Homo sapiens: one gene and its partners. The protein of the gene in region 1 purifies or fractionates together with the protein of each later gene. This does not show direct contact. Each region holds a gene or a part of one and is shown in the gene's direction. Other genes may lie near its edges.

Region 1 (3,500 bases):
TAACTAATAGAATATAATTGGATTGAGCCTATTATATTCAGGCACAGTGGCTCACGTTATAATCCCAGCAGTTGGGGAGACTGTGGCGGGTGGATCACCTGAGGTCAGGAGTTTGAGACCTCCCTGGCCAACATAGTGAAACCCCATCTCTACTAAAAATACAAAAATTAGCCAGGCATGGTGGCAGACACCTATAGTCCCAGCTACTTGTGAGACTGAGGCAGGAGAATTGATTGAACCCAGGAGGCAGAGGTTGCAGTGAGCCAAGATCACACCACTGCACTCCAGCCTAGGTGACAGAGTTGAGACTCCATCTCAAAAAAAAAAAAAAATTATATATATAAGCAAAACTTAGGTATAAAATCTGGCCCTGCTATATTATTCAAGATTCCTAACTATAATTATTTACAGTAAACTTACTTGTTTTTCTTGCTAAATAAATGATGATGAGTGGCTTAGTACCTTTTATGAAAGTTCACATTCACACTTATCTTTATTCATATGTTTTGAAGGGAAGTCGTTGCATATGATGATCCCAAAATTCCACTTTTCAACACAGATGTGGACAACCTAGAAGGGAAGACACCACCAGTTTTTGCTTCTGGTAAGTTTACTCAGTCATCAGCTCTGTGTTGACTTTGAAATGTTTTGTTAAACAAAAACATAATTTTTTTTTGAAAACTGCTCTTACAAGCACTACCACCACCCATGATTTCATTGTTGTGTTTTATGACCTTACTTTCACAATTATGGCTGAAAGTTAGTGATTAAAACCAGTAAATCCTCCTGAAAATAAGTGCATGTTATAGATGGTTGTGATATTAGGTGATGGAGTATTTCTCCCCATCCCCCACAGAGACTTACCAAAGGTGAGTGAAAATTCAGGAAGAGTCTAAAAAATTAAATTGGTTGGGCAGGTGCGGTGGCTCACGCTTGTAATCCCAGCACTTTGGGAGGCCGAGGCGGGCGGATCACGAGGTCAGGAGATCGAGACCACGGTGAAACCCCGTCTCTACTAAAAATACAAAAAATTAGCCGGGTGTGGTGGCGGGTTCCTGTAGTCCCAGCTACTTGGAGAGGCTGAGGCAGGAGAATGGTGTGAACACAGAAGGCGGAGCTTGTAGTGAGCCAAGATCACGCCACTGCACTCCAGCCTGGGTGACAAAACGAGACTCCATCTCAAAAAAAAAAAAAAAAAAATTGGTGGCTGGGCGTGGTGGCTCACACCTGTAATCCCAGCAGTTTGGGAGACCGAGACAAGTGGATCACTTGAGGTCAGGAGTTCCAGACCAGCCTGGCCAACATGACAAAACCCCGTCTCTACTGAAAATACAAAAAAAAAAATTAGGCGGGCGTGGTGGTGGGCACCTGTAATCCCAGCTACTCAGGAGGCTGAGGCAGGAGAATCGCTTCAACCCGGGAGGTGGAGGCTGCAGTGAGCTGAGATTACACCACTGCACTCCAGTCTGGGCAACATAACAAGACTCTGTCTCAAAAAAAAATTAATTAATTAATTAAATTGGCATTCTCATCATCAAATTCTTGTTCTGTTTTTTCCCAGGCCGTAATTTATTATTATTTCTTTAACTTTACATGCGTTTCTCTTTTGTGTTCTTCTGTCATCTGCCTTTTTGTGAAAGTTCCTGGGCAGAATTTCTGTAACCATTCAGCAGGTTCACACTCACAGATCTCTTACTTCCATGGTCTCATTCTCCAAGGCCCCCTAGGAAGTGGAGTCTAAGGAAAGCAGCACAGTTCTTTGTATTTGCTTAGAGATTATGTGACTCTCGCTGGTCTGTCTGCAGCTGCCTTCATTTTCTGACTGTTTTCTTTCTTGCCTTGCAGAAGGCAAATACAGGGCTCTGAAAATGGATTTTTCTCTACCCCCTTCTACTTACGCCACCATGGCCATTCGAGAAGTGCTAAAAATGGATACCAGTATCAAGAACCAGACGCAGCTGAATACAACCTGGCTTCGCTGAGCAGTACCTTGTCCACAGATTAGAAAACGTACACAAGTGTTTGCTTCCTGGCTCCCTGTGCATTTTTGTCTTAGTTCAGACTCATATATGGATTTCAAATCTTTGTAATAAAAATTATTTGTATTTTTAAGTTTTTATTAGCTTAAAGAAATAATTTGCAATATTTGTACATGTACACAAATCCTGAGGTTCTTAATTTTAGCTCAGAATATAAATTAGTCAAAATACACTTCAGGTGCTTAAATCAGAGTAAAATGTCAGCTTTACAATAATAAAAAAAGGACTTTGGTTTAAAGTAGCAGGTTTAGGTTTTGCTACATTCTCAAAAGACAGCAGGAGTATTTGACACATCTGTGATGGAGTATACAACAATGCATTTTAAGAGCAAATGCAACAAAACAAATCTGGACTATGGATAAATAATTTGAGAGCTGCCACCCACAAATATAAATACAGTACTCATGCTGACTGAAATAATAAGACATCTACAAATTTATAAACAAAAAGTGATTGTCATTATCCTGCTTATGTACTAGATTCAGGCAAGCATTATAGACTTTTTGGTTGCGGTGGCTTTTGCATTTATATTATCAATGCCTTGCAGGAACGTTGCATTGATAGGCCCATTTTATTTTTTTATTTTTTTTTTCGAGACAGGATCTCACTCTGTAGCACAGGCTGGATTGCAGTGCAATCCTGCAATTCTCAATCTTGCACTGCAGCCTCGACCTCCCAGGCTCCAGTGACTCTCCCACCTCAGCCTCCTAAGTAGCTGGGAGTACAGGCGCGCACCACCACGCCTAGCTGATTTTTGTATTTTTTTGTAGAGACGGGGGTTTGGCCATGTTGCCGAGGCTAACTCCTGGGATTACAGGCATGAGCTGTGCTGGCCGGGTTTTTTTTTCTTGATGTAAACGTGTACAGCTGTTTTATTAGTTAAGGTCTAATTTTTACTCTAGGTGCCTTTTATGTTCAGAACTCTTTCCACTGGACTGGTATTTGCTCAAAAATAAATAATGGTAGAGAAGAAAACTATAAAAATGGACAAGGCTTTCTTCTATCAGTAGCGTTTACCCTTTGTCACCAGTGGCTTTGGTATTTCCATGTCTGGCATTGCATAAACTTCTCTGGTGTGAAAGGATAAATATGCCTTTCTAAAGTTGTATATCAAAATTGTATCAATTTTTATTTTCTATGATTTCTAGAAACAAATGTAATAAATATTTTTAAAATCTCCTTTCTACTGGTTATGTAAATAAATCAAATAAATATATCAAAATGAGTGCAGATAAGAATCTTGACCTTGACTAAAGGTAAGGAACTAAATGAATGTGGGATCCTCATCAGAAATGGTGGTGACACCAAAATGTGTTGTGATCAGCTGTGAAGTATGAGGATAATCTGAGTCAAATGCTACGAATAATTGACTGTGTTGGACTGGACTCCAGGTTATTGGAATCACTCACTCACCTTCCAATGTGCTTTATGGAGTAGAAAAGAAAGGAATGGAAAAGAGCT
Region 2 (3,500 bases), on another chromosome or scaffold:
ATGAAAAAAAAAATGCTGACTCTCCAAAGACACCAGGGTATGAGAAAGTTTTGGATTCTCTCCTTTGTGCCATCTCCTGTGTTGGGGGCTGAAGTACAATGGTTGTAAAAGACAAGAGGGAGAAGGCTGGTCACAGTGGCTCACGCCTGTAATCTCAGCACTTTGGGAGGCCAAAGTGGGGGGATCACTTGAAGTCAGGAATTCAAGACCAGCCTGGCCAACATGGTGAAATCTCACATCTACTAAAAATACAAAAATTAGCTGGGCGTGGTGGTGTGTGCCTGTAATCACAGCTACTCGGGAGGCTGAGGCAGGAGAATTGCTTGAACCCAGGAGATGGAGGTTGCAATGAGCCAAGATCATGCCATTGCACTCCAGCCTGGGCAACAGAGTGAGACTCCATCTCGAAAAAAAGAAAAAAGAAAAGAATATAAGGAGTGATTAAAAAAGAAAAGAAAAGAAAACTAAGTAGGGTGAAACAATAGATAGCCATGGGGGTTAGGGAGCTTTTTTAGACAGGGTCGTGAGGGAGGGTCCCTGAGCCTGAGTGGCGAGAAGGAGTGAGCCTTGGGGAGATCTGGAGGTTCTGGGAAGAGGAATGGCAAGTGCAGAGGCCCTGAAGCAGCAATGACCATGGCACATTTGAGGAAGAGAGAAAAAGTCAGAGAAGTAGAAAGTGGGCAAAGGAAGCAAGACAGGAGGTGAGGTGGGAGAGGTTCCAGAGACCAGATCACACCAGACATCATTGGCCACCATAAGATCTTTGGGTTTTAAAATTCCAGATGTTATGGGATGCAGGAAGCAGCATGATCAGCAGCATTCTCTAGGTGCCAGGTTGAGAACAGGCTGTGGGGGAACCTGTAAAGAGGTTGCTGCCATAGTTCCGGCGAGTGACGGTGGTGGCTTGGATGGGGTGATGGCAGTGGAGAGGGCAGGAGGGAGGATCAGGAATGGACCTCAAGACTTCCCAGCCCTGGGTCTGCTGCACTTTTCAATCAAACCCCATGGCCAGGGAGATTGTCCCCTCAGAGTGACTGAAGGAAATTCAGAGAAGAGCTGACACCTAAGTTGTAGATTTTGCCCGAACAGGTCAGTTGACTGGCGGCTATAAACCTAACCCCCAAATCTATGTCAAGCTCATCGAGGAGTGCACCGACCTGCAGAAAGAGGGCGAGTTCTCCACCTGCTTCACAGAACTACAGAGAGACTTCCTGAAGCAGCGCCCCACCAAGCTCAAGAGCCTCATCCGCCTAGTCAAGCACTGGTACCAAAATGTATGGCCCTCCCACCAGGCCTGGTGGGTCCTGTCTCGACTGGGAGCAGAGGAGGGGTGGGGGGAGGAGAGAAAGAAGGGAGTGAAGGGAAGAGGAGGGGGAGTGGTGGAGGGAAATAGAGGGATGGAAAAAGGAGAGAAAGGAAAAAGAGGTGGAGAGAGGAGCCTGCAACAGAAGGGAGAATGAAAGGGAAGGAAGAGAGAAAGGAAGGGATTTTGGTGTTCTGTTCACTGCTGTATCCCCAGAACTTAAAACAGAGCCTGGTGCATAATAGGTGTAAATAACTGTTGAATAAATGAATCAATGCTACATACACACACGCACGCACACACACACAGAGAGAGAGTCAACCACACTCTTCAGAAGGTGGATAAGTTAAAACAAGAGTTTCAAACAAATATATGTTCAGATGCCCTTTCCTCCCACTTACTGGCTGGCTGGCCTTAAGTAAGCAACTTAACCTTTCTGTTCTTTCTGCTTTCTTATCTGCAACGAGTAGCATGCCATAGCTAGAGTAACACGGCATATAGTTGGTCCTGATAAATGTAGCATATTTTAGCCACCATAGGAGTACACATAATAAAAGCTAACATGTAGTATGTGCTTAGCTTATCTATGTTTTGTGGATGTGATACAATTTTCTGTTCACTTTTAAATGCCCTGCATCTTAGTCAATTTTAACAGTGATTCTGTAAGTTAGATAAGGTTAGGCATTATTATTAAATCCATTTTACACCAAGAGAAACTTGGGTCAAAAAGAGAAACTCCTGGGTCACATGGCTCATTCGGCCAATAAGTAGCAGAAGTAAAATTTGAATTTGGCTGGGCGCGGTAGCTCACACCAGTAATCCCAGCACTTTGGGAAGCCAAGGCAGGTAGATTGCTTGAGCCCAGGAGTTCAAGACTAGCCTGAGCAACATGGCAAAACCTCGTCTCTACAAAATAAACTAAAAATTTAGCCAGGTGTGATGGTGAGCACCTGTAGCCCCAGCTACTGGGTAGGCTGAGGTGGGAGGATCGCTTGAGCCTGGGAGGAGGAGGTTGCAGTAAGTCAGGATTGCACTACTGCCCTCCAGCCTGTGAGACAGAGCAAGATCTTCTCTCAAACAAACAAACAAACAAACAAACAAAAACTCGAATTTGGGTCTATTGACTTAAGAGTTTGCCTGATAATAATAGGCATTCAATGTATATTTCTTGAATGAACGAATGAATGAAAATAATCAGGAATAAACTTTCCAATTTAAAAGTAACACCTCTAGGTAAAAAAAAGACAATCATTTAGTTGCCAGACTTCTAAGTGTTTGCTGTTCTATGAATTGTAATCATGGAGCCTGAGCATTGTAGAATTTACAAAAGCAGTTCCTGACAAAAGCAGCACTGCCCCCAGGGACATATTGAAAATTAATGAGGGTGTTTTTGGTAACCATGGTGATGGGAGGACATGGGTGCTACTTATATTTAGTGGAAAGAAGACAAGAATGCTAGTTATTGTACAATGATCAAGAGAGTCCTGCACAGCCAAGAATTGTCTTTTTCTTTCTTTCTTGATGCTGTTCTCCTTTAAAACAAGACAAGATTAACAATAATTTAACTCCACTAACCACCATCATCACCACCTCCAACTTATATGCTACATTTCTTGTATATTTCAAGTCTGTTTATATTTTCAAGTGCCTCGAAGTATTATTGTTTTATAGCCAAATGTTTAGTTAATCTGCTCACAGATTTACCACTTTCTTCACTATTCATTCTGTCTTACACCTCTAACATTCCATCTGGGGTAATTTTCCTAAATGATCATGCATCCTTTGGGATTTCTTTTGATGATGGTCTATTGGTAGTAAACTCTCTCAGTTATTGTTTGTCTGAAAATGTCATGCTTTTGCCTTCATTGTTGAAGGGTGCTTTTGCTGGGTGGTCATTTCAGTATATTGAATATATCATTCCATCTTCCAGTGTCATCATTAAAAAGTCAGTTGCCAGTCTAACTGCAGCTCTTTTATAAGTAACCTGTCTTATTCTTCTGGCTGCATGTAAAAGTTTTCTCTTTGTCTTTGATTTTGTTTAGCTTCAATCTGCTGTGTCTTAATGATGGGTTCCTATTGTTTGTCCTGATTGGGATTCCGTTAAGATTCCTGAATCTGTGGGTAGATATCTTTAATCAGTTTTGAAACTTCTCAGCCATTCTTCTAAAATATTGATTCTCCTTCATTCTCTCCTCAC
Region 3 (3,500 bases), on another chromosome or scaffold:
CCAGCCTGGCGACAGAACAAGATCCTGTCTCAAAAACAAACAAAAAAACATACTTGGTTACCTTCAACAACAGTAAACAGTGTCGCACACAGTTGCTCTGGGCCTGGCTTAGCTGGCTGGCTCTGGGTCTGGCCTCTGGTAAGGCCTCAGTGGAGACGCTCTGGGGCTGCATCATCTGAAGGTTCGCTTGGGGCTGGACGAGCTGCTGCCAGCCCACTTCTCTCACATGGCTGTTGGTGGGAGGGCTCAGTTTTTTGCCACGTGGGCCCCTACAAAAGACTGCTTGAGCATCCTCACAACATGGTCACTGGCTTCCCCTAGAGAGAGAACAAGGATGAGACTGTTGTGCTTTTTATGCCCTAACCTTGGAAGTCTTGCTCTGTTCCATCTTCTTGGCATTCACATGGGTCAGCCCTGTTCAGAGTGGGAGAGGACTATATAAAGCCTTGAATATTGGGTGGGGATCGCTATATAAAGCCTTGAATATTGGGTGGGGATCGCTAGGGCCATTTTGGGGGTCAGCTGTCCCTCTGGCTGCTGTGTGGAGAGCAGACAGTGGAGGTCATTTCTGATAGGCCTATAGGCGAGAGGCAGTGCAGAGACTGAGGCCCAGAGAGGGAAAGCAACTTACGGAAGGCTGCACAGCTAGTAGGGAGGTTGGAGCTGAGCTTTCAGCGTAGATGCTCAGGTTGGTCAGTGGGTAGGAATTTGCCCCACCCAGGTCCTAGGAACAGACAACGCACTGGTGAAGGGGGCTTCTAACCTGGGCTCTCATTTTTCTGCCACAGGTTCTTACATCCCCGCGTCCCCAGGTTTAGCCTGAGCAGGGTTGTGGAAGGCCGGGACCCATTGACAGCACGATGGTGACGGAGCAGGAGGTGGATGCCATCGGGCAGACGCTGGTGGACCCCAAGCAGCCCCTGCAGGCCCGCTTCCGGGCGCTGTTCACGCTGCGTGGGCTCGGCGGCCCAGGCGCCATTGCATGGATCAGCCAGGCCTTCGATGACGATTCCGCCCTGCTCAAGCACGAGCTGGCCTACTGCCTGGGCCAGATGCAGGATGCCCGCGCCATCCCCATGCTGGTGGACGTGCTGCAAGACACCCGTCAGGAGCCCATGGTGCGCCATGAGGCAGGTGAGCACCTGTCTGTGTCCCGGGCACCTGCTCCCTCCTGCCTCACTTCTTCATGACCCCACGTGTCCCCTTCCTCACTCAGGTGATAAATATCAGAGTGGTCAACTGCCCCATAGAGCACCAGATAGTAAATACCTGCAGCTCTGCAGCCAGACAGCGACTCAATAAAGCCAGCGCAGGTCATCTGTCACCAAATGGCTAAGGCTGTGTGCCCAGACAACCTCAACTGGGCAGGGGGCGGTGGCTCAGGCCTGTAATCTTAGCACTTTGGGAGGCCCAGGAAGGTGGATCGTTTGAACTCAGGAGTTCAAGACCATCCTGGGCAACATGGCAAAACCCTGTCTCTAGAAAAAATACAAAAATTAGCCAGGCATGGTGGCATGCACCTGTAGTCGCAGCCACTTGGGAGGCTGAGGCGGGAGAATCGCTGGAGCCCGGGAAGTCAAGGTTGCAGTGAGCCATGATCGTGCCACCGCACTCCAGCCTGGGCAACAGAGTGAGATCCTGTCTGTGAAAAAACAAAAAACAAACTTCATTTGTAAATGCTGAGATTTGAATTTCATATAAATTCCACCCATCAGGAAGTACTATCCCTTTGATTTTTTGTTTTAAACCATTTATTTGTTTGTTTTGAGTCAGAGTCTCACTCTGTCGCCCAGGCTGGGGTACTGTGGTGCCGTCTTGGCTCACTGCAACCTCTGCCTCCCGGGTTCAAGTGATTCTCCTGCCTTAGCCTCCCAAGTAGATAGCGTTACAGGTGTGTGCCACCACGCCTGGGTAATTTTTGTATTTTTAGTAGAGATGGGTTTTGCCATGTTGGCCAGGCTGGCCTTGAACTCCTGGCCTCAAGTGATCCACCTGCCTCGGCCTCCCAAAGTGCTGGGATTACAGGCATGAGCCATCGCACCCCGCCTTAAACCCTTAAAAGTGTTTTAAAAACCATTCTTTGCTCGTATAAAAACAAGCGACAAGCCATAGATCCCCAATCCCTAATGTATATTAGATTTACTCCACTCATTGGACACACATTTAGTGAGCACCTACTGTATGCCAGGCTCTGTCATGTAGTAAGAGACAAAACAGTGACAATACAGATACAAGCCGGGCATCGTGGCTCACGCGTGTGGTCCCAACTACTCAGGAGGCTGAGGCAGGAGGATTACTTGAGCCAGGGAGGTTGAGGCTGCAGTTAGCCATGATCATGCCACTGCACTCCAGCTTGGGCAACAGAGTGAGACCCTGTCTCAAAAAAATGGACTGTTCAGGTCGGGTGCATTGGCTCACGCCTGTAATCCCAGCACTTTGGGAGGCTGAGGCGGGTGGATCACCTGAGGTCAGGAGTTCAAGACTAGCCTGGCCAACATGGTGAAACCCCGTCTCAACTAAAAATACAAAAAAAAGTAGCTGGGCGTGGTGGCCGGCGCCTGTAATCCCAGCTACTTTGGGAGGCTGAGGCAGGAGAATCACTTGAACCCAGGAGGCGGAGTTTTCAGTGAGTGGAGATCGCGCCATTGTACTCTAGCCTGGGTCACAAGAGCGAAGCTCTAAAAAAAAAAAAAAAATGGACTGTTGTAGCGAGGGACCTAGACAGCGAAGGAGACCAGTGAGGCAGGTAGTTGGTGCGTCTGTGCCACTGGGACTGTGTTTCTGTAACCAGTGAGCTCATTTGCAATTAGCGCGTGGGAGGTGCCTGACACAGAGCCTGTGTTGGCGCATACGGGACTTTTCCCGGCAGAGGGAGCCTGCCAGGCAGGTGCACAAACGCAAACCGCAACCTTCAGGAAAGGCAAAAGCCACCAGCTCAGCTGCCTCACAGGCAGGGCCCTTGAGCTCGATTCTGAGAAAATTCAAGGAACATCTGCACCCAGGGCTCTACGGGGAGCCGCCGCCAGCCTTGCTCCGACCTGGGCTTGCGACGCCTGCACTTGCGCCTGTACCCGAACCCACCTAAGTGTAGCCCCAGTGGCCCCAAATTCTGGAGTCTCCAGCCGGCAGGCCCGGCCTGTTTTGGGAATTTTTTTTGTTTGTTTTTTTGAGACAGGGTCTCACTCTGTCGCCCATGCTGGAGTACAGTGGTGTGATCATAGCTCACTGCACCCCCGACCTCCTGGGTTCTTGGAGCTGCTTGTCAGCTGTGATCCCGAGTTGTAGGGATATACTTGTCTCCCTGTCTCATGGTACGGGCCGGGATGGGGTCCATTTTGCTCTGAGCGGCAGCCAGGTGCGGTTCCAGGCAGTGCCTTGCTCTGGGGAGGGGATGCTGATTGGTCCAGCGGGGAGCCTGTACCGACTGCTGCTCCAATCAGCCGTGGACAGAGGCGGGGCTTCCCCACAGTGGCAGAGCCCTGGGAGGGGTGTCCTCCGGT
Region 4 (3,500 bases), on another chromosome or scaffold:
ATAGCACAAGGAAGACACACAAAACACCTGGGAAACTGAGAGAACAGCAGAATGACCTAAAGAAACCCAACAATGAATATCAAGTATAGATTTGACTCAAACAATTGTAATTTTTGAAATAAACTAGCAAAACCAGAAGCAGCTAGAAATATTCTTGGAGGAAAAGGACCTGGATATCAAGTAGGGTAAAGGTGGGGGTGTCTTTTTTCACTTTAAGCATCTTGTTTTCTAATCATGTGTGATAATTGGGTGAAAAATTCTTAGCTCAAAGTGTTTTAAAAACAGGTAAAGCAAAGAAACTAGCAGGACCACTCTCAGTTAAGATTAAAACTAAAGTCCAGTGTTAAGCTAAAGGAGAAATAGAAATTAATGGTTCTAATTCTGTTTGGGCTGCTAGGAACAACAGAAATTTTTCATGGTTCTAGAAGCTGGAAAGTCCTGGGTCAAGGCCCAGCAGATCCTGTTAGGTGAGGGCCCGCTTCCTGGCTCATAGATGGTGCCTTCTCACTGTGTGGTGGAAGGGGCAAGTGAGCCCTCTGGGTTCTCGTTTTTGAAATGGAGTCTCGCTCTGTTGCCCAGGCTGGAGTACAGCAGCACGATCTCGGCTCACTGCAATCTCTGCCCCCTGGGTTCAAGTGATTCTCCTGCCTCAGCCTCCCAAGTAGCTGGGACTATAGGCATGTGCCATCACACCTAGCTAATTTTTGTAGTTTTTTGTAGAAACAGGGTTCACCATGTTGGCCAGGCTGGTCTCGAACTCGTGACCTCAGGTGATCCGCCTGCCTTGGCCCCCCAAAGTGCTGGGATTACAGGTGTGAGCCAATGTGCCCAGCCTGGGTTCTCTTTTGTAAGGGCACTTACTCCAATCTTGAGGGTTCTGCCCTCGTGATCTAATAACTTCCCAAAGACCCCCACCTGCTAATATCACCTTGGGGGTTGGGATTTTAACATACAAATTTAGGGGAAACACATGGAGACCACAGCAATGGCCAATCCTTAGCGAATCTTAGGTCCTTCCCAGATCTAAAATGCCAAGCTACACTTGCATTTCCTTTTTTTAAGATTATGAAACTTCAAAATATATGAACTACAGCCCATATTGAAAAATAAAATAGATTGAGCCATATGCCTAAAAAAGACCTCAAGAAAAGTTTGAGGCTAAGCATGTTAGTGTTACAGGAAATGGTCCAATAGAGGGGGAAGAAAAAAAGCATGCTACTAGCCCCTTTTCTTGTACCGAGAATAAAACCATGCAGATCTCAAACCTCCAAGTCTATAGTATTGAAAAGACCAAGTTCACTTCTCAGAAGTCTCCAAGTTCAGTTGACTGTGGCACTCTGAGACAGCTTCTGTCACTCAGGCTGGAGTGATACAATCACAGCTTCCCATAGCCTCAAAATCCCAGGCTCAAGACATTCTTCCACCTCAGTCTCCTGAGTAGCTGGAACTACAGGCGTGTGCCACCACGCCTAATTTTATTTTTGTAGAAACAAGGTCTCACTGTTGCCCAGCCTCGTCTCAAACTCCTAGGCTCAAGCAATCCTCCTGCCTTGGCCCCCCAAGTACTGGACTTACAGGTGTGAACCACTGCACCCAGCTGACTCTTACTTGATTTCTGTCAGGGAATCTTAATGAACATTTCATGACTAAAGACTAAAAAGGATGCAGCTTTAAGTAAATTTAAGTCAAGTTAACAGTTAAAGACAAATCCTTTCCCTACATTAGATCGCCTGCTGATCTGTCCACTGTGAAAGGGCAGAAGACTCCACAGTAGCAATAGCAGCAGTGAGCATACAGGAGTCCCAGATGTTTACTTCTAGTATTTCCCACTAAAAGGAAGCTGGGCTCCTTGGAGAAACAGCTGACTCCAGGGCTTGAGGCTGGGACAGAAAGGTTACAGTATCTTATGCATGAAAGGAGATGCTCAAAATAATAAAGGCATGCAAATTATGATTTGGAGGGAAAAAATATGAGGCCATAGTGTTTAGGTAGATAATAAATGGCAGAGATAGAACACTCTCTTACAACAAATGCTGTAAATGGACAAAGCATTAGATTTGGAAAATCACTATTTTGTAACCATCATAGTTAAAGACTGGTTTGGGTTTTAGTCTGGAAAGAATCGCCAAGGGAGCTCCTGATAAAGGAACAGGGTATTTGCACATTGCTTCCCAGAGATTGCTAGTAGTAAGTACCACACATAGGGCAAAACCAGGACACCTTGACCAGGCGCTCAAAAGTAACATCAATGAAGAGCAGATGGAGAGTATACTTGAGAAGGGCGTTAAGCATGAATAAACAATTCAAATGCAAAATGAGTAACAATTTACAAGAAAAATTGCCCTGTACTCCAAAAAACATAGAGGTCATGGAACACATAAAGGCTAAGGAACTGTTCCACATTAAAGACAACTGAGAACAACTAAATTCAATGATCCTGTACTCTAGAGGGGGGGATCTAAAACAAGCTACCAAGGATACTGGGACAACAAAACGAATATGGATGATAAAGAGTATCAACATTCCCTGAGTTTGGTAATTTTACTCTAGTTATATGAAATATTCTTGTACTTGGAACATATGCCGAAGTACTAAGGAAGGGGTAAGGAAGCACAAAGTGTGCAACAAACTCAAATAGCTCACAGGTATAAGTGTACAGAGAAAATGAAAAAAATGTGGCAAAATAATAAAAATGAGGGTAAAGATTACACAACAGCTTTCATATTACTCTGGTAACTTTTCTAAATTATTCCAAAATAAAAACGTAAACAATGGCTGCCAAAATGCCTAACTTGGTGAACATAAGTGTAATTCAATATGGTAAATTAATTCAACATGGTAAATTAAGAGCATAGGCCTTAAGAGCCAGCCAGCCTGGTTTTAAATCCTCCACTACTTATGATCTGAGCTTGAGCAAGTTACTTAACCTCTGCATCTATTTCCACCAAAGGTTGAGAGGTTAAGACAAGAGCTTAGAAGAGTACCTGGTTATAATAAACATTCAAAATGTTATTTCAAATAGATTCTAATTTTTAAATAAGAGGACACATGAAAGCATTTTGAAATTTAAGAATGGCCCTTTCCCATGAAGCAAGGCATAAGGCCAGGTTGCTAACTGTTGAAAGCTGACAGTATGTTCTTGATTCCTGTTCTTGTTGAAGTTACACACTCAATTGCCAGGTATTTTTCTTCTGAATTTACTATTTAGCCACAGACTATGAAATAATTCTCTAAGGTGACCAGTAACATCAGTGAAATGGAAAGAAAAAGTTAACACTTCAAACTTTGTGTATTCACCTGAATAGTCAGGGAACTTTCACCTATTTTATTTAGGTTTTCTTTTTCTTTTTTTCTTTTTTTTTCAAATTCCAACCAGAAGCTAAATACAATTGGAAACTGGTAAGCACTAGTTTTACTCCAAAGGAGTAGGATCATTCAGATTTACTCCAATAAAAGTATGCAACCCTTAAGCAAAGCTTTTCTTCATTTAAAAGGAGAAA
Region 5 (3,500 bases), on another chromosome or scaffold:
TCTGTCTCATAGTAAACATTCTATGTATTAGTTGTTTTGTTGTTATTTCCAATAAATTAGCTCAGAGGCTTCTTTCTTTTTTGCTCAAATGCCAATTCCAAAGGTGATTCAAGGAGAATCACCAGCTAGCTCTGACCTCCCCTAAATTATAAAGCCCACTGTCCATCCCGTCTACCTGTCCTTCCCGGTGTGTACAGACATTCCTGACAGAGGAGCACTGTGGGAGCAAGCAGGGCTGAGTGGTGGCTGGCAGGTAGGAGGAGGAGGAGGAGCAGGTTGGCCCAGCAGAAGTGAGTGGTAGATTGGGGTAGACTAGGGAGGTCTGGGAGGATAATCAGAGGGAGCTGTGGCTCTGGCTTTGGTGTCAGAGGTCCCTGGGATAGACCCAGGCTGGGGTGAATCAGAGGCATGGGAAGAGCAGCTATTATGTCATCTCCAGTTATAAGACAGGAAGCTCAGGGACAGGCCTGGCTAGAAGGCTACCCACTGCCCTCCAAGTGCAAGCAGAACCAGTTAGAAGAGGACTGGGGTTGGGGACCTGCTGATCCCAAGCAGAACGGGGACTGGGGTGGGCTGACTCGGGCAGGGGCTGGTGAGGAGGCCTCTGATGAGGCATGGCTAATCCTGATGCCTCCTCCCTTCCTCCCAGTGCATGCACCCCACCCTCCTCTCAGTGTGGTACGCAGATTTGCCCATCTCTTGAATCAAAGCCAGCAAGACTTCTTGGCTGAGGCAGAGCTGCTGAAGCTCCAGGAAGAGGTAGTTAGGAAGATCCGATCCAATCAGCAGCTGGAGCAGGACCTCAACATCATGGACATCAAGATTGGCCTGCTGGTGAAGAACCGGATCACTCTGCAGGTATGGGGCCCACCAGTCCTCCCCTCCCCGAGATCTGCCTGCCTCTGGAGATGTGATGCTGACCATTCTCTGCTTGCTAATCAATTTTTTTCAAAATGTTGTGGATTTTGTCACCTGACTCAGGTCCTTGTTCCAGTGGCCCTCTGCCATTCTAATAAATCATTTTGGGGGACCCATGACAGAGTAGAAAGAGCATGAAACCTAGAATCAGAATGCCTGGCTCTGCTGATTCCCAGGGATGGGGCTGTGGGTGCTCATTTCACTTCTAAGTCTGTTTTCTCATTAGCAAACTGAGAATAATGAGAATGTCCACCTCTCCAGGCCAAATATAGAGACAGATATGAAAGCTGTTTAAATCATAAATTACCATATAAATATGCAGTGACAGGGTAATAGTGATATAGTGATAGCTCCACCTCAAATGTGTGTAGCAGTCTAATAAGAAGAGATAGCAAAAGCCAAATAGACACAATTCCTCAGCCTGGCAAACCAGTTCTCTTTGGGGACTCACTCCCATGACAGGAGAGGAAACAGATGGAGTCTCAGGGCACTTGGAGGGGCCCTTCCTCACCCTAGAACTGCTTCTGTCCCCCAGCTTATGCCTGTTCCTTGAACAGCAGAAAGCCCTGGCTCTTCAAGGCACTGATTCTAGACCGTATGTTCTGTGCCCTGGGATGGCCTAGGCTAGTTGTATCACCCGCTCCTCCACCCCTGCAGGAAGTGGTCTCCCACTGCAAGAAGCTGACCAAGAGGAATAAGGAACAGCTGTCAGATATGATGGTTCTGGACAAGCAGAAGGGTTTAAAGTCGCTGAGCAAAGAGAAACGGCAGAAACTAGAAGCATACCAACACCTCTTCTACCTGCTCCAGGTTAGCAGAGGACTTTCCAAGGAGAAGTCTCTCCCGTCTCCTGAGGGTCTGAGACTTCAAGGCCTTCTTGTCTGTGCGTTTGGCACCATGCAAGGTGTCCTTTCCCATAATCTTAATTCCTTATCCCCAGGAAAGGAGACTACCTCTTCCCCTGTTTGTCTGGAATGTTACTAGCACCTGGAGAAAGTGTGGTAGTGCTTTCTCCATTCCAGATTTCCATCAGGGGAAAGCCTTTCCTTATCCTATCACTGGTCCTTGAAGTGCATGGTCAGCCATTCCTGTCTCCCCTCTTGCTTGCAGACTCAGCCCATCTACCTGGCCAAGCTGATCTTTCAGATGCCACAGAACAAAACCACCAAGTTCATGGAGGCAGTGATTTTCAGCCTGTACAACTATGCCTCCAGCCGCCGAGAGGCCTATCTCCTGCTCCAGCTGTTCAAGACAGCACTCCAGGAGGAAATCAAGTAGGCTCTCCAGACACAAAGGAATGGGGAGAGAATGGGTTAAGAGATCCCCCTGTTGGCTCCTTCACAAGGTGACAACTTGTTGAGGCCTAAGGGTAGAAATGGAATCAGAAGACCTCTTTTCTCTACCTCCTGTGGAGAAACCGTAAAACATCTGGGACAGCACAGTGGGAGGATATGGGCTGACATGCTAACACAAAGGATGAGAGAGATATCAAGACATTCCTTAAGAGCGGGGACACCAGGGCAGGCTTTGAGAGCCAAAATCTCAAAAAGGAAAAGCAACGGTATGTCCTACACAGAGGCAGAAGACTGGTTTCAATGACCTCTTAAACCACAGGTCAAAGGTGGAGCAGCCCCAGGACGTGGTGACAGGCAACCCAACAGTGGTGAGGCTGGTGGTGAGATTCTACCGTAATGGGCGGGGACAGAGTGCCCTGCAGGAGATTCTGGGCAAGGTTATCCAGGATGTGCTAGAAGACAAAGTGCTCAGCGTCCACACAGACCCTGTCCACCTCTATAAGAACTGGATCAACCAGACTGAGGCCCAGACAGGGCAGCGCAGGTGAGCACATGGGCAGAGGGAGGAGCTCTCTTTGATCAGCTGTGTCTTGATCAGCTGTGTCTTGGACCCTACTGGGGAAGCTTGGGTGTACTTTGAAGGTGGCATATAAATGGGCATGCTGATCTATGCAAATATGACACCAGCTTTGTAGGCATGAATAAGGTAGTCTTTTAGACCCCCTCTGATAATTAACATGAAACTGATGTAAATGACTTCAGACCTGGTGGGCTTAACATAAAATGAGTACAGATGAATATGCAAATGTGCTTAATTGCTATGTCAGTGCTTGCAAATGATGTGTCAAATTTGGTGGTAGTAGGGCCGGACATAGTGGCTCACGCCTGTAATCCCAGCACTTTGGGGGGCTCAAGGTGGGCAGATCACCTGAGGTCAGGAGTTTGAGACCAGCCTGGCCAACATGGTGAAACTCTATCTCTACTAAAAATGTAGGTCAGGCGTGGTGGCTCACGCCTGTAATCCCAGCACTTTGGGAGACCGAGGCAGGCGGATCACGAGGTCAGGAGATCGAGACTATCCTGGCTAACATGGTGAAACCCCATCTCTACTAAAAATACAAAAAATTAGCCGGGCGTGGTGGCAGGCACCTGTAGTCCTAGCTACTCGGGAGGCTGAAGCAGGAGAATGTCATGAATCTGGGAGGCAGAGCTTGCAGTGAGCCGAGATCGTGCCACTGCACTCCAGGCTGGGCGACAGAGCGAGACTCTGTCTCAAAAATAAAAAAT
Region 6 (3,500 bases), on another chromosome or scaffold:
ATCTGGGAATGGAGTGGATGATCTGCAACAGATGATCCAGGCCGTGGTAGATAATGTGTGCTGGCAGATGTCCCTGGATCGAAAGACCACTGCACTCAAACAGCTGCAGGGCCACATGTGGAGGGCGGCATTCACAGCTGGGCGCATGAAAGCAGAGTATGTGCTTGAGTCAGCCTAAACATTTCACCAGTCCCAAATCCAAATATGTTTTTTCACCAGTCCTCTCTTTCCAGCGTAAGTCACAAGACTGGTAAAACAGATAAAAATCCACACTCTTTTTAGTCTAACAAGTGAGCTTTGTTTCATTTTTTCAAAACTTGGCTAAAATATTTCAGCTGACTAGATTACCCGGACCTGCCAGTCTGGTCTTGTGGGTTGATTGAAGGACTTGTCAAAGTCTCCGTTTAAAATAGCTTCCTAGAAAATGGTGACTTCCTTGAACTAAGTCATATTTGATTCTTAGCACATGAGTGACAGCTCCGTTGGGCTGCTTGCCTGGACTGTTAATTACCTGCTTTTTGCTCTATGAGACATAGGAAATTTTGTGCCCCACCGTGTTGAGGTTACTCAGAGGATGTCCGCACTACCACGTTCTTCTTTGCTCTTTTGAGCAACTTCCACAGATTCTTTGAGTCTTGGTTATGGAGTTCCTAATAGCACTCCTGCCTGAGGAGACTTTTGAGTATTATACTTACTGAGAAATTCTTGATTGATTCAGACAGGGTCCTACTCTGTTGGCTGGAGTGCAGTGGCATGATCATGGCTCACTGCAGCCTTGACCTCCCCTAGTTCAGGTGATCCTCCCACCTCAGCCTACCGAGTAGCTGGGACTAGGCATGTGCCACCATGCCCAGCTAGTTTTTGTATTTTTAGTACAGATGGGGTTCTACCATGTTGCCCAGGCTAGTCTCAAACTTCTGGGCTTGAGCGATCTGCCTGCCTTGGACTCCCAAAATGCTGGGGTTACAGGCGTAAGTCACAATACCTGGCCTATTTTTTTTTTTTTAGAGCTGGGGTCTTGCTCTGTGATCCACACTGGAGTGCAGTGGTGCCATCATAGCTCACTGTAGCCTTCAAGTGAACCTCCCGCCTCAGCCTCCTCATTAGCTGGGACCACAGGCACGCACCACCACACCTGGCTATTCAAAAAACATTTTTGTAGAGGTGTGGTCTTGCTATGTTGTCCATACCATATTGCTGATAAATTCTTTTCGTTTGTTTGTTTCTGTTTTTGCTTTGAGACCGAGTCTTGCTCTTTGCCCAGGCTGGAGTGCAGTGGCGCAATCTCAGCTCACTGCAACTTCTACCTCCTGGGTTCAAGCGATTCTCCTGCCTCAGCCTCTGGAGTAGCCGCCTGCCACTATGCTAATTTTTGTATTTTTAGTAGACATGGGGTTTCACCATATTGGCCAGGCTGGTCTTGAACTCCTGACCTCAAGTGGTCCACCCCATCTCAGCCTCCCAAACTGCTAGGATTACAGGTATGAGCCACCCCTCCCGGCCTATTTTTGTTTTTGGAGATAGTCTCACTCTGTTGTCCAGGATGGAGTGCATTCACACAATCTTAGCTCACTGCAACCTCCGCCCTCTGGGTTCAAGCAATTCTTGTACCTCAGCCTCCCAAACAGCGGGGACTACAGGTGCGTGCCACCACACCTGGCTAATTTTTTGTATTTTAGTAGAGACAGGGTTTTATCATGTTGTCCAGGCTGGTCTTAAGCTCCTGAGCTCAGGGCAGTCCACCTACCTTGGCCTCCCAAAGTGCTAGGATTACAGGCGTGAGCCACTGTGCCAGGCCTGCTGAGAAATTCTTTTTTTTTTTTTTTTTTTGAGACGGAGTCTTGCTCTGTCACCCAGGCTGGAGTGCAGTGGCGTGATCTCAGCTCGCTGCAAGCTCCGCCTCCTGGGTTCACGCCATTCTCCTGCCTCAGCCTCCCGAGTAGCTGGGACTACAGGCGTGTGCCACCACGCCCGGCTAATTTTTTGTATTTTTAGTAGAGACAGTGTTTCACCGTGTTAGCCAGGATGCTCTCGATCTCCTGACCTTGTGATCCGCCCCCCCTTGGCCTCCCAAAGTGCTGGGATTACAGGTGTGAGCCACTGCACCTGGGTGTGAAATTCTTAAGGATTTTAGGCCATTGCCTGCTGTAAACCCTAGGATCCAAGATTGTTTCCAGCTGCATATATTTCTTTTGTGTTTCTGTCAAATGAGATGTTGTTTCTTTATTTATGTACTTTACGAGGAGCTTCTACCTTTTAAAGGATGGACTGGAATTTCAGGATATGCCAGTGATCTGGGAATATCAGCCAGGTTCACTTTGTAAAGCACTCAAAAAAGTGGAGACAGGAGACTGTGCACCCGGTAGTTAGCCCATACTTCTCTTGGTCTTGGTTCCTTAATTATACAACTAACTGCTGAAGACAGGAAAAATCCTGTCTCCATGAGTGCAAACTAGTACTCAGAATAACATACTTACATGTGTACTGGTTTTGAATACGTTGATCTCTTTCCTTCAATTAGTGCAACATGTTAAGCATGTTAATACATATAAAGCGGAAGACTCCACTGACATTTTCCAGGTAATCTTTTAGAGATGACTGGTTCTACAACCCAAGTTCTTTGTGCTTCTCTTTTCACCTTTCTCCTGTGATGTTAATTTCCTCCATGACTATGGAAAACACTAGAATTGGTAAGAGAGACTGAGTGTCAGAAGTCAGAAAAAGACATCTTTTGCTGACTGGTTAATGTGAGTTGGTACAAGTCTCAACTGACTTGTTATGTAATTTTTTCCCCATATAATAAAACATTGTTTTCTTAGTTCTCAAAAAATGCAGGCCGGGTGCAGTGGCTCATGCCTGTAATCCCAGCACTTTGGGAGGCTGAAGTGGGGGGATCACTTGAGTCCAGGAGTTTGAGACCAGCCTGGGTGACATGGCAAAGCACCATCTCTACAAAAAATTAAAAAAAAAAAAAAAAAGCTGGGGGTGGTAGCACATGCTTGTAGTCCCAACTACCTGGGAGGCTGAGGTGGGAGGATCACTCGAGCCCAGGAGGTAGAGGTTGCAGTGAGCTGAGATCATGCCACTGCACTCCAGCCTAGGCAACAGAGCAAGACCCTGTCTCAAAAAAAAGTAATTCCATTTTCTAGCTAATCATAAGTTTATAGCTTTGAGCCTTCAAACTTTGTTTTGATTATTTTGGGTGCAGATCTTTCTAAAAGCATTTCCATGCTTTCTTAAAGCACAGTGGACATAATTTAACCTTTTCTTGTCATGAAGAACATCAAAGATTATATTATATCATTGCTGTTGTTTGCTTTTTTGAGTTCTTCGGGAATTTAAAAAACACTTTCCCATTTCATCCTTTTATCTGTAGTCCCTTTTTACTGTCACTAGTGGCTGTCTGTTCAAAACTATCCTCCTTTCCACATAGATTGTTGCTTCTAATCTGCTGTGAGCCTGGAACTTGGGCAGTATGTTTATTAGAACTGCAGGAGTTT
Region 7 (3,500 bases), on another chromosome or scaffold:
TTTGGAGTACTGCTCATTTCAAGGTCACTTTGAACATTTTTCCACATTTGAAAGCTTCATCTTGTGGAATTATTAATAGATTCTTTATTTTTTTGATTATGGAAAAATTTACACAATCATATTTGTAATATCTAGGCATACAAGAAGTGTGTCTTGTTAATTATTACTGTTCTGAATTCCTTTTAATTGTAAGAGAAAGACTACTTACAAATAACTGTTAACTTTTTAGCTTTAAATTACAAAAGCGATTCTGTAGTATGAAGTCATTTTGGTTTGTTTCTAGCACAATTATACTTGCATATGTTTCATATAATTGAATGTCAGTTTCTATTACCTAGGACCATTTAATCAAAGTTGAACTGAAATAATGCATTTTATTGTTTGAAATTATATTAGTTTGGAATTTGTGACAGAACAATCTAGTTAAATTTTACTTTCGCTTAGCAGACCTCATTAATAGCAAAAATGAATTACAGGTCAACTGTTTAACTGTTTTCAGTCACCCATCATAAAACCATTACAGATTATGCTAGTGTTGATTAAATCTAGTTCCCTATGAATTTCCTAAGGTGGACATGTTTTTCTGTAGCCCAAAACTATGAAGTATTAGTTTGTATAAAGTAATATATAGTGTTAAAAACAAAGGAGAATATTCTGTACTTAAAAAAAAACTAAATAGGATTATCCTATTTGTTAATTAATATGAATTATTTTGGGCTTATTATCATAGAAGCTAAGAATATGAGCTCTAGGCTGGTTGCACTGGCTCATGCCTGTAATCCCAGCACTTTGGGATGCTGAGGTGGGAGGATCACTTGAGCCCAGGAGTTTGAGACCAGTCTGGGCCACATGGTGAAACCCCGTCTCTACAAAAAACACAAAAATTAGCTGGGTATTGTGGCTCACCTATGGTCTCAGCTACTGGGGAGGCTGAGGTGGGAGGATCAATTGAACCTGGGAGGTGGAGGCTGTAGTAAGCTGTGATAGTGCCACTGTACTCCAGCCTAGGTGACCAAGTGAGACCCTGTCTCAAAAAAAAAAAAAAAAAGTTCTAGAATCAGACTGCCTGAGTTTGAATCCTATTTTCCTTTGGTTTATGAGCTTGAATCCTATTTTCCTTTGGTTTATGAGCTTAGCCAAGTTATTTTCTCTTCCTTTGCTTCAGTTTTCTTATCTATAAAATGGGTCCAATGATAGTACCTGTATTGTTGAGGAGATGATGTGTAGTAGTAAATACAAAATTCTTAGCTGTTGTCATTATTATTATTACTGTAAAAATATTTTATTAAGATTCTTGGATACTTGTAAGCAGAGGAATATGTAAGGGAACATCTAATCTGTTTTAGAGATCATTGAAGATCCTATTCAAGAGCTGACCATAGAAGAACATTTGATTGAGAGAAAGAAGAAATTACAGGAGAAGAAGATGCATATTGCAGCCTTGGCATCTGCCATATTATCAGATCCAGAAAATAATGTAGGTAGTATTAATTTCTTTAGGCTCTTTGTATTAGGTATGGTGTAAATGCCTAATTGTTAAGATTCCCTTGTTACCTATAAGCATACACTAAAAGGAAAAGCATTAACTAAACATAGTAGCTGGGTTAGAGTAAGAGAGTAGACAGAATCTTAGCTTAATGCTATGTCTGAACTTAATTTCTTTTGTAATCCTAGAAAAGTTACTTAAACTCTCTGAATCTTATTCTCCTCATCTTCATATATGAAAATACTGGACATCTTATAACTCTAAAAATGTTTAAATTTATAAAATTGTATTAGGGAGGAGGAACCTGTTTGCAAATTTGCTTGACATACCCGTGGAGTTTTTAAAAAGCGCGCTACAGGGGAAGTGTATGGAATTAGTTCAGGAATATTTGTAAGTTGAAAATATTTTAAGTGAACTAGAGCCAAAGTTAAAGTAAAGTGTTATTGTGCCATGTGTATAGTCGTTGAGTTAGTGATGGTTATAACACATGAACTAGAGAAATCTGAGGTTTAATCTTGGCCCTGATAAGTACTATCTGTGAGACTTTGGGTAAGTTATTTATCCAAGACTCTTTCATCTCTAAAAAAGGACAGTGTCTTTTTCAAAACTTTGTGGTGAGGATTATATGATGAAATATACGTGAAGTCATATAAAATGATACTATTATTATTGTTATGCTGGTGTCCCCAGCATACTATTATAACAAGTATTTGTTTATGAAATGATAGAATAGCTTATTTACATTTATAGAAGCAAATTTCATGTGGGAATGCTTTGGAGTAGTACTTGTCCTTTTCTAATGAAGTGAGGGGAAGATCTAGAGCAGAATTAGGGAAGAGAGATTTGGAATATTTCTTATGTGTATTCTCTCAATCATTACAAAACCATAGGCATAAGAGATTGATCTAATTTTACAGCTGGAAAATTGAGCCTTAAAAAACCCAAGTGATTTGTTCCAGATTTTAACAGCCACTGGATTGGAACCCAGATCTTCTACTCAGGAACCTGTGCTCACAGACAATAGTAGTTCATCAAAGCAGTCGAAACCATCATAGAAATTATCTTTGAAGCTCAAGTTAATGTGGCTATATTACATGTAATTCCTGATTAATTCATGTGTATGACTGATATATTTGGTTAATGTATATAACATTTTAGTATATTTTGAAAAGCGTTTTTAGAAGAATAGGACACACGTACTTTAGGAAAATCCAGCAAAAAAGAATTTCCCAAAATAGCTAAATAATAAATGTAAACTAATTTTTTAAGGTCTGTATGTTTCTAACTATATGACAAAAATATGATTACTGATATAGTTTGGAGGTGTGTCCCCTCCAAATCTTATGTTGAAATGTGACCTCTGATGTTGGAAGTGGGCCTGGTGGGAGGTGTTTAGATTATAGGGGTGGATCCCTCATGAATGGCTTGGTGCCATCCTTGTGGTAACAAGTGACTTCTCACTCTGGTAGTTCATGTGAGAGCTGGTTGTTTAAAAGAGCTTAGAACCTCCCCTATCTTTCCTGTGACACCCTGGCTCCCCCTTTGCCTTCTGCCTTGATCGTAAGTTTCCTGAGGCCTCACCAGGAGTAGACGCAGGCACCGAGCTTCCTCTACAGCCTGCAGAACTATAAGCCAAAATAAACCTCTTTTCTTTATAAATTATCCAGCCTCAGGCATTTCTTTCTAGCAATACAAGAACGGACTAATACAATTACTTTATGACTTTAGTGACTTATCTCTTGGTAAAGTGAGCAGGGTCTGGAGTTTGGTGTGGCATGACTAGACTTGGAGTCATTGTGTGAATTCCGCTTGTTTTGCCGGATGTGGGGCTGTTGTCTTTTGTTCATAATTGTTTCGTCATGATTTCTCCAGCTTTATAAGCTATTTCTTTAACAGATTAAAAAATTGAAAGAATTACGTTCTATGTTGATGGAACAAGATCCTGATGTGGCTGTTACTGTTCGAAAGCTGGTAATTGTTTCTCTGATGGAGTTATTTAAAGATATTACTCCTT

The links.
Region 2: the proteins of PUS7 (region 1) and OAS1 purify together in Homo sapiens (co-immunoprecipitation; one large-scale study listed by IntAct). This does not show direct contact.
Region 3: the proteins of PUS7 (region 1) and DOHH fractionate together in Homo sapiens (co-fractionation; one large-scale study listed by BioGRID). This does not show direct contact.
Region 4: the proteins of PUS7 (region 1) and ACOT13 fractionate together in Homo sapiens (co-fractionation; one large-scale study listed by BioGRID). This does not show direct contact.
Region 5: the proteins of PUS7 (region 1) and IQGAP3 purify together in Homo sapiens (affinity purification with mass spectrometry; one large-scale study listed by BioGRID and IntAct). This does not show direct contact.
Region 6: the proteins of PUS7 (region 1) and ENOPH1 fractionate together in Homo sapiens (co-fractionation; one large-scale study listed by BioGRID). This does not show direct contact.
Region 7: the proteins of PUS7 (region 1) and NOC3L fractionate together in Homo sapiens (co-fractionation; one large-scale study listed by BioGRID). This does not show direct contact.

What each region holds. Positions count from the first base shown.
Region 1 is NC_000007.14:105,456,272-105,459,771, reverse strand, and holds the end of PUS7 (pseudouridylate synthase 7 homolog), read left to right. Parts: intron 1-512; coding exon 513-604; intron 605-1,845; coding exon 1,846-1,982; 3' UTR 1,983-3,269; downstream 3,270-3,500. UniProt on the Homo sapiens protein: Pseudouridylate synthase that catalyzes pseudouridylation of RNAs.
Region 2 is NC_000012.12:112,909,962-112,913,461, forward strand, and holds part of OAS1 (2'-5'-oligoadenylate synthase 1), read left to right. Parts: intron 1-1,089; coding exon 1,090-1,274; coding exon of another isoform or gene 1,275-1,297; intron 1,298-3,500.
Region 3 is NC_000019.10:3,494,175-3,497,674, reverse strand, and holds part of DOHH (deoxyhypusine hydroxylase), read left to right. Parts: intron 1-61; exon of another isoform or gene 62-317; intron 318-631; exon of another isoform or gene 632-788; 5' UTR 789-860; coding exon 861-1,134; intron 1,135-1,269; exon of another isoform or gene 1,270-1,444; intron 1,445-1,520; exon of another isoform or gene 1,521-1,560; intron 1,561-3,500. UniProt on the Homo sapiens protein: Catalyzes the hydroxylation of the N(6)-(4-aminobutyl)-L-lysine intermediate produced by deoxyhypusine synthase/DHPS on a critical lysine of the eukaryotic translation initiation factor 5A/eIF-5A.
Region 4 is NC_000006.12:24,701,577-24,705,076, forward strand, and holds the end of ACOT13 (acyl-coenzyme A thioesterase 13), read left to right. Parts: coding exon 1-39; 3' UTR 40-3,470; downstream 3,471-3,500. UniProt on the Homo sapiens protein: Catalyzes the hydrolysis of acyl-CoAs into free fatty acids and coenzyme A (CoASH), regulating their respective intracellular levels. Has acyl-CoA thioesterase activity towards medium (C12) and long-chain (C18) fatty acyl-CoA substrates.
Region 5 is NC_000001.11:156,538,066-156,541,565, reverse strand, and holds part of IQGAP3 (ras GTPase-activating-like protein IQGAP3), read left to right. Parts: intron 1-649; coding exon 650-858; intron 859-1,575; coding exon 1,576-1,728; intron 1,729-2,028; coding exon 2,029-2,192; intron 2,193-2,532; coding exon 2,533-2,757; intron 2,758-3,500.
Region 6 is NC_000004.12:82,451,090-82,454,589, forward strand, and holds part of ENOPH1 (enolase-phosphatase E1), read left to right. Parts: coding exon 1-156; intron 157-3,500. UniProt on the Homo sapiens protein: Bifunctional enzyme that catalyzes the enolization of 2,3-diketo-5-methylthiopentyl-1-phosphate (DK-MTP-1-P) into the intermediate 2-hydroxy-3-keto-5-methylthiopentenyl-1-phosphate (HK-MTPenyl-1-P), which is then dephosphorylated to form the acireductone 1,2-dihydroxy-3-keto-5-methylthiopentene (DHK-MTPene).
Region 7 is NC_000010.11:94,352,940-94,356,439, reverse strand, and holds part of NOC3L (nucleolar complex protein 3 homolog), read left to right. Parts: intron 1-1,346; coding exon 1,347-1,477; intron 1,478-3,382; coding exon 3,383-3,500. UniProt on the Homo sapiens protein: May be required for adipogenesis.